Linked DNA regions of Homo sapiens: all the other regions are linked to region 3. The links come from fine-mapping of genetic effects on gene expression. A gene starts in region 3. Each other region holds a variant in brackets. All regions are shown on one strand. Distances are between the middles of the regions.

Region 1 (2,768 bases), 100 kb after region 3:
TTAAAACAACCAGATCCCACTAGAACTCACTATTGTGATGACAGCACCACGAAGGAAGGTGTTAAACCATGAGAAACCACCTCATGCTCCAATCCCCTCCCACCAGGCCTCACCTCTAACATTTGGGATGACAAATGAACATGAGATTTGGGTGGAGACACAGATCCAAACCATATCAGCTACTTTGACTAAAAGTTTCAAAACCACCACCAAAAGAGATAACTACATTAAAAAGCCAAGTAGCTTATATACAAGAAGCAGTCTTGAATTCTGAAGTCAGTGCTTTCCTGAGAAACATGGGGCAGTTTTTTTTTAAACCTGGAACAGAATTGTTACTCCACGAGAAGCTGAAGACTATGAACATCATTCTACATATTAACTCAATTAGAATATTTACTGCTTTGAAATAATTCAATGAAGAAAATGCTTGCTACTATAGTAGCAAGTGACTCCTAAACTTTTCGGTTTCAGACTCACTTTTTTAAATTTGATTTTTATGGAGAAAGCCTATCCTAATAATTCAATTAGGGATGCAGGCAAGGGAAGGAAATGGGGGAGGGGGAACTAAACCTACGCTCCACTTGCACTTCATAAAAGAAAGAAATTGCTTTAACATCCGAGTGTTTCGAAGGATACAATGTAAAAAAAATCAGTTCCTTACATTGAACAATTTTAGTTTTATTTTAATTTTCCTTATTATACTGTGGATCGGTGAAATCTTTGTGGGTGGCCAGCACACAGATGTCTATGAACCACATTTGAAAACCACCACTGAAGCTCATAAGATGTGCGAGTTGGACCATCTAACCATGAAAACCCCCTGATGGTGGTGGCAGCAATTATCTGATTGTAGAACAACAGGATCCATGTTCTGAATGGATCCCAACCAAGAATTGAATCCCTATCTCCAAGAGTCATATTACCCTCTAAGAATGCTGGTCACCACAGAGAATATAGATAGAGGCTTAGAATGTGTGTGCCTGTGACTGTGTGTGTGTGTGTGTGTGTGTGTGTGTGTGCGCGTGTGTGATGGAGGCATTTGGAGAGGAAGAGAGAGACTGTATTTCAGCCTCTATCACTACTGCGACTGTTACCTTGGAGGCACTGTGTTTGAATCTGCTTAGTTTTCTAAGCAGATGAGGATGGGAATGAGGAGACGTTAGACCCACTAGTTCTTTGGTTCTGTGATTGGTTCTTCTTGCCTGCCTTACAACTCCTGCTGCTTGGAATCGTTCATACGAAAATAGATACACCCAGAACAAATTATCTTAACCAGATTCTAAAGCAGAAGTGCTTAGCCAACTCATAGAATTATTTAATTATTTAATATTGGCACTGCAAGGAGCTTAGAGATTGTCATTTGACAAATAAGGAAACAGGTACCAAGAAGTAAATTTAATCAAAATTACATGTCCAGTTGTGGTTAGACTAGGAGTAGAACTCAACTCAGTACAATTTCCATTGTGGCATAAATCAACATAACTAACTGCTGCTGTTACTGTGCTGGCTAAGTGTCCATACTAAAGTGTTGAAATTCGCAAAAAAAAAAAAA[G/AAAAG]CTAAATCAGTAAAAAGATTAACCACATGCAATATCCCTTTGAGCACCAACTCCTCTTTGACTACATAAAATATGCTTCTAGTTATTAAACTACTAGTGAGTGCAGATTTTAAATTATACATCTCTCACAGTGAAATTGAAGTGTAACTTTTAATGCCTCATTCCATTTTGAAACTCATATTTTTCTTACAGTATACTATATTTTGGTTCACTTGGAACTATCTCCTAAATAATCATCCCCCCACCCTTCACCAAAAAAGGCTCAATTTATTATTTTTGTTTAGTATGAACGAAATCAAAAGCAAATCCACCAAACAAACACATACACATTTTCTTTTATGTATTAAGATGCATAGTGGAGTCTAATTTCAAAAACTACTTAGTACATTTTTTTAGAGTTAACTCTGGAAAAGTTAGCACGTAGATGCACAACACTTTACCTTTTCGGGCAATACTTCCATTGTTTTACACGTAGAGAAAATGGGCTTCTAATGAGAGAGAGAAGCTTAAAGAAAAAAAAATGCTTAAAATGGTATGAACCCAGTATTCACCTTAGACAAAATCACGCTACCACACGCTGCTATGTCTGGGGCAGACATTCTCTCATTTCCTGCATTTTATCCTTTTTGTTTCAGTTAACAAATAGCCAAAGAATCACACAACTTCATATAATTTTTATTATATTCCATTTCCCTCCTACTGTGGCATTCTGTAATTGAAATACATACCCTATTTATCATGGAAGCAACACAGAAAAATGTCCCTGTCTCTCAGACAACTTTTAGTGCAAAGAGATGGAATAGAGCCCAGAACTCTGTTTTCCAGTCTCTGGGGCTGATGCCAGTCTTTTCAAAAGGGAAGTCGGTACAAAGGACACTAAAGAACAGCAGAGGGAGAAGCCAAAGGGCATGGCTCCCCAGCATGCGTGATGCAGAATGGGCTGCTCTTCCTCACGCTGCAGCACTGAAGATGAAAAAAGAAAATCGTTGGGAGAACACTTGGAGACAAGTGGCTGCTGTAAATAGTATTTTAGAGCATTAAATCATACAAAACTATAATCTCCAATTTAACATAAAAGAGTAGGGGGATGGAATATTCTGAAATTGCGAATCACTGTGCATACACCATGTATAGATTACATATTCTAGGAGAATGACAATAACATAAAATACACTTATTAAAATATTGAACATAATCTAATTTTTAAATTTTACTT
Region 2 (2,768 bases), 73 kb after region 3:
GTATGACATGATCGATTAGTAATGTCTATCATAGTCACGAAACGAGGATGGTGGAGATCTGTAGGCTGGTCCTAGACACCATTTATGAACAGAAACAACTTTTCTTTAAAGTATTTTATTTTCTACCATTTCTAAATCCAGTATCCATGTGAATTGGCATGTTGGCATAATCATGCTGTTGGCTATTTAGTACAAATAGGCTAAATATTAACCTAAGAATCATCTATGTGCATGTAACTTTCTGCATTTGTCCAATAGATCTTTTGAGAGAAATTACTGGAAGTGGAATTCCTTTCATTAAAGTCTCCACCCTCTTCTATAGAAGTAGCACTTTTCCCCTCCAGTATGCAACACAGGTCACATTCTGCCATGAACTAGTATTGTTAATGAACATCTTTCTCCCCATCAGAACTGCAAAGCCCTTGAGTACTAATTCTGTCTTGTGCTTTCATGTATCATCCACCTCCCCTCCCACCAGTGCCTAGCACTGGTGTTTTCTTTGTTCATAGTAGATGTGGATACATTTTTTTGGCTTTAAATATAAAGATACATTTTACTATTAATATTTTAAAATATGTTAAGAATTAAGTATCAGAATTCAGTCTATATAAGGAAAGCCTGAGATGAAGTGATAAAAAATAGATGAAAAAGTCTTGATTTTTCAGAAAGAACAAATAAGCAAATAAACACAGCCCTGTTTTTCTCAGTCACTATTAGATATTGAACATTAAGAGTTAAAGGACTGCAGGCTGGGCGCGGTGGCTCACGCCTGTAATCCCAGCACTTTGGGAAACCGAGGCGGGCGGATTACGAGGTCAGGAGATTGAGACCATCCTTGCTAATACAGTGAAACCCCGTCTCTACTAAAGAATACAAAAAATTAGCCGGGCGTGGTGGCGGGCGCCTGTAGTCCCAGCTACTCGGGAGGCTGAGGCAGGAGAATGGCATGAACCCAGGAGGCGGAGGTTGCAGTGAGCCGAGACGGCGCCACTGCAGTCCAGCCTGGGTGACAGAGCTAGACTCTGTCTAAAAAAAAAAAAAAAAAAAAAAAAAAAAAAAAAAAAAAAACAGAGTTAAAGGACTGCAAATGAATTTAATGAAACTATTGCCCAAATGATTGATGTTCATGTACAGACCAAAATTTCAGTGCTAAATAGACATGTTAATAATGATGCTGGAATATACGAGTATTTAAAAATCTCCAAATTCCTGGGGAATTAGTAGTTGTAATAAAAGTGACTTCTTCTCATTCACTTCATGACTCCTTAATGTCTCTGCACTTGCTTGGTATCAGCGGCTTATTTAACAAGTCACTGCACATAACTTGTATTCCTTAATAATTAATACACTTAAAGTTTCCTATGCTTACATGGATAGAAATGTTTTCCCAGTGTCTTAAGTTTGATTCTTGCAACACTCATCTCTGTGTTCTTTCAGAAACAGGAGGCTCACTGTAGCTGACCAGCACTGGCATGGTCCTTCATTTGCTGTTTGTTTTTTAGGTCATTTCCCCCCCGCATTTCTACCTTCTTTATTCGCACCTTCTTTATTCAC[ACC/C]TTCTTGTTTTATTCCAATTAACATTCCCAATCTTCCTTTTGAAAATCCCAGAAGTCCCCATCATGGCCAGTCTGCCTAGCCTTCTGGGTGTCTTCTGACTTTATTACTTATAGTTCACTTGTAATTTGTTTTGTTTTGAATCCACCTACATACAGCCTTGTATTTTGGATGTTTTCTCTCTCTGGCTTTTTTCTCTCAGGTCACGTTATCTAAGAATATATTCCACTCACTCCCTGGGCTATAAGGATATAATTACACTGGTCAGAAAGACTCCCTGGCTTTGGTTTGCAGAATATGACCTTACATAAATATTATATATCAAAATGATTAAAATCTAGGTCTGCAAATGAACATCATTTCAAATTTGCAGTGTTTTCTTGCGTCTAACCACTCTGTAAGTGGAGATTCGAGATTTGGACACTCTTCCATGTTATTCTGGGAGAATCTGATATATGTTTTACATGTTTCATGTACATGGATTAATATTATCCATTAAGACTCACAGATGTGCTGTCCAATTCCTGAGACTTATTTTTGATTGTATAGAACTGGTAGGATTCCTTTGAATTTTAAATAAACATACATTTTCCCAAGTAGTAAACAACTCCATGGTCTCTCTCTTTTTGGTTCAACATCTAAATACATAAATTTCTTATAATCTACCTTTTAGTTTGCTCAGCTCTGATCCTTAATTGAACATTCTGGGTTAATATTGTGTTTGTTGTTGAATGTTCCTAAACAAGTTGTCACATTTTGAAACAAGTGTTCTAGATTAGTGGGCATAATTTCAGATACATGTTCTCTATGTATATGTATTTTAAAACAAAGTTTCAATTTCCTTGCTGCCCTCGGTATTCTTAAAAATAAATATACTTATGTAGAACTACAGTTAGAAAGTGATTCCAGTTTTTCTCTATCTTTATTCAGATTGTTTTGTACTGAATTAAGTAAAAATTTTTCCCCCAAATACCCATCTCATTTGGCTTGTAAAGACTGTTTTAGTGAAAGAATGTTACAAAATGTTTTTTTGCTGAAAGCAAATTTTACAACAGAAATGATGTTCATTTGCAAACCTGGATTTTAATCATTTAGATTTCTAATATTAATGTAAGGTCATATAATTCTGCAAACCAAGGCCAAGGAGTCTTTCTGGTCACCAGTATAATTATCAGTTTCATCCAATGTTTACTAGGGGTTGGTGAATTCATTTT
Region 3 (2,768 bases):
TATGTAAAAAAGCTCAAACATATCCTATCACAACTTCTTCTTTATCTTAATTCATTCAATTCAGTAGGTATTCTTTAACTACCTACTATATGCCAGGCTGTAGGTATACACACTGTATGGATGATGCTGGGAATACAGAAGTCACACATGGTACATTCCTGGCTTCTGGGAGCTCACAGATTAATGGAGAGGACTAAGGGGCAGAAATGAGTACAACACAAACACAATGATAAGATCACAGGGTCCTGTGAGATACAGAGGGAGGCATCTAATCCAGATGTATGTGGTGTGGAGGGAGGGGTACATTAGTGATCAGGAAACTCATAAACCATACAATGTTTGAGCTTTCTCAAAGAACCAGCAGGGCAGCTCCTGCTCAGCTAGGCAACTCCTCTTTTTGCCATAGATCTAGCTGTTCCATTCAGCCATTCACTCGTGGCTGCAGTGACCTTCCAGGTCAGTCTGGACTCTGGAAATTGCCTCCATGGTTACCTCCCTTCCCATTGATGACATTCTACAGATCGTTCAGTTTGCCCTAGGCCCCTGTCTGTTCTATATAACACTGGTTTTCTGGAAGCCGTTTGGTATCTTGGTAAGAATACCCAGATTTATAAGGGAAAAACAATAACATAAGTGCCTCCTGCTTCTTTGCTCAGATGTTTCAGTTTTTGGGAGATCATTTAGCCTCTCTGAAGCTCACCTCCTCATCTGTGAAAGGCTAGTAATTATAATACTAGTTCTTACATGAAGAGAGGGTGTAAAAATCAAATCAGATGAGGGATATGAAAGCAGGTCCAGCACAGCTCGCATATTAATTGTCTTTGTTAGGGTCTGAGCATAATGGAGTATGACTCCAATGCAAATCCTATAAATGCTGATCCTGTAAGGAGGACGAGAAGCTTTTGGAACTTTCTCAAATATATGAATAGAATTTCAATTGAATTCCTTGTTTGTTTTTCCTAGCATCTCTCAGTTCCCAATCCAGTCTGGATTTCATTCCAGCCATTTACTAGCCTTGCGTTACCTTCTCCTTCAGTTTCCTCTTGGGTATCATGGAGATAATTAAAGATACTTCAAAGAGATATTGCGAGGATCATTTGAAATAAGGAATAGAAAACACCACGTAGTGATGCTTTCTTAGGCAAGGTTTTGACCGAGGAAAGCCGCCCTTCGGTGGGAGCCTGGAGGCTTGGAAATAACCAGTGAAAAAGGGAAGCCCGTCTTGGGTGCAGCACGTTAAAGACCCAAGCTCGCAAGCCTGGGAGGCAGCGCGGCGGGAGGAGCCTGCCCCTGCCCCCAGTAGGGGGCGCCGAAGCGCCGCACTGCAGCATCCTGGCCGCTGAGCGCAGCGGCCTTGGCCGGGCTCAGCTCGCGTCCTGCCGCAGTCCCTCCGCCGCTAGTCGGAGCGAGCGCGAGTGAGGAGACCCCCGCCGGGCCACTGGCACTTGCTTCTGCGGCGAGTCCCACCCACGACCGCAGCCCAGCAACTCGCAAACGCAACCTGAAGCCTGGGCTGCGCAGTGTGGGAGGGCTTCGCGATCTTGGGGGACCCATTCCGAACTTGCAGAGGACCGTAGCTCTCCTGGCCTGGAGAGTGTGAACAGGTGAGTGTCACGCACGTGTCCAGGCAGCTCTTTCGGGACGACTTCCTGCAGACCCATTCCGAGCCCTGAGCGCGCTCGGCCTCTGAGTCGGTCCTCTTGGTCACCGGGTTCTCCTCCCAGGGCGGCTTTGGGGTTCGCTGCGAGGGAGATGTGAACACCAGCAGCCTATCTTGACAGGGCTCTCCTAGCTGAGAGGGAAAATGCCCTTTTGACTTAAGGCTGCATTTTCTCCCTAGCCTGAAAGCAAGTGACTTGCAGTCCACAATGGATTTGTTTATTCTTGCAAGATACCTGTTGAGTTCAGAGCAACATTAAATAGCCAAGGGGCTTATACAATTATCCTGGTTTGCTGTGGGTACTGCGTAGTGATAAGAAGAGGAAGAATTCCTAGTAATGAGACCAGGAAAACTTGATTTCAGAACCAGAGAAGGGGAGGCCAAAAAAGAAGAGAATCTCATTTCCAGGCCTAGACTAGGGTCTTTGCTTCCCTAAATAGCTACACTTGATTTTGATGAGCGCATGCAAACAGAAGTTCCAAGCATGATTACCTTATAAAGACGCTTGCTTGCCCCACCCCCAAGAGGAAGTAGAAAGCATGAACCTTGATAAATATAGCCTTGAGAATGATTTATTAGGAATGAAAACTTTCTTTAAATAAGTAAGTAAATAAGGTTACAGTTATCTAAATATCATAGGTCTAACAGAGTGTAAGCTCTTCGAAGGGAACTACTTTTATTTGTATGTGCATAGCGTGAAAGTGTGGAATAAATCAATGAATGCATCACTAATAATACAGGATTTTAGCTAGCGTTTTTCCTTTTTCCTTTAATTTATGTTTAGGGAAAAAAAAACCTACACCTTCAAACTAAATAGGTATGATTTTACCTTTAGAGTGATAGCAGCTGAGATGTTTTTGTCCTAATAAGCACCATCCACATAAAAAGTGAATGGCAAATTTCAGCCCTACTCAGAATATTTCAGCAGAACATTAGGACAAATGGATTTTCTTAGATCCACGTATGGAAGCTCTCAGATTATGAATTATTTGGAACATCAGAAACTTGGCAACAGTTTACTTATTACAACAATTTACATATTTATTTTTGTTTTCTATCTTGTCAAATGTAACTTTTCACATTTTCATGTGAGAAATAAAATGTTGAA

Direction of the effects. Positions count from the first base shown, and alleles are read on the strand shown. Sizes are in standard deviations (SD) of each study's normalised expression. Not every link is listed here.
For the expression in subcutaneous fat of the gene that starts at base 1,382 in region 3, allele AAAAG in region 1 goes with a higher level than allele G (moderate effect, 0.53 SD a copy in FUSION).

What was found. PIP is the estimated chance that this variant, and not a neighbour inherited with it, causes the effect. A credible set is the group of variants that fine-mapping cannot tell apart.
Region 1: its variant is the best candidate, but not a certain one, in a credible set for the expression of RERG in subcutaneous fat (FUSION, PIP 0.74).
Region 2: its variant is the best candidate, but not a certain one, in a credible set for the expression of RERG in atrial appendage (GTEx, PIP 0.70).

What each region holds. Positions count from the first base shown.
Region 1 is chr12:15,115,927-15,118,694 of GRCh38, reverse strand. All of the region lies in intron 3 of RERG (RAS like estrogen regulated growth inhibitor), which reads left to right. Among named protein-coding and RNA genes, the nearest start is that of RERG-IT1, 2.7 kb to the right of the region's middle. The variant G/AAAAG (reference allele first, on the strand shown) is at 1,553.
Region 2 is chr12:15,147,148-15,149,915 of GRCh38, reverse strand. The region is part of intron 2 of RERG (RAS like estrogen regulated growth inhibitor); the gene reads left to right. Among named protein-coding and RNA genes, the nearest start is that of RERG-AS1, 3.4 kb to the left of the region's middle. The variant ACC/C (reference allele first, on the strand shown) is at 1,555.
Region 3 is chr12:15,220,031-15,222,798 of GRCh38, reverse strand. RERG (RAS like estrogen regulated growth inhibitor) reads left to right here and starts at 1,382. Exons shown (of 5, transcript NM_032918.3): 1 at 1,382-1,604. LOC124902886 reads right to left here and starts at 2,131. Exons shown (of 1, transcript XM_047429948.1): 1 at 821-2,131. The coding sequence starts at 1,554. The coding sequence ends at 1,237.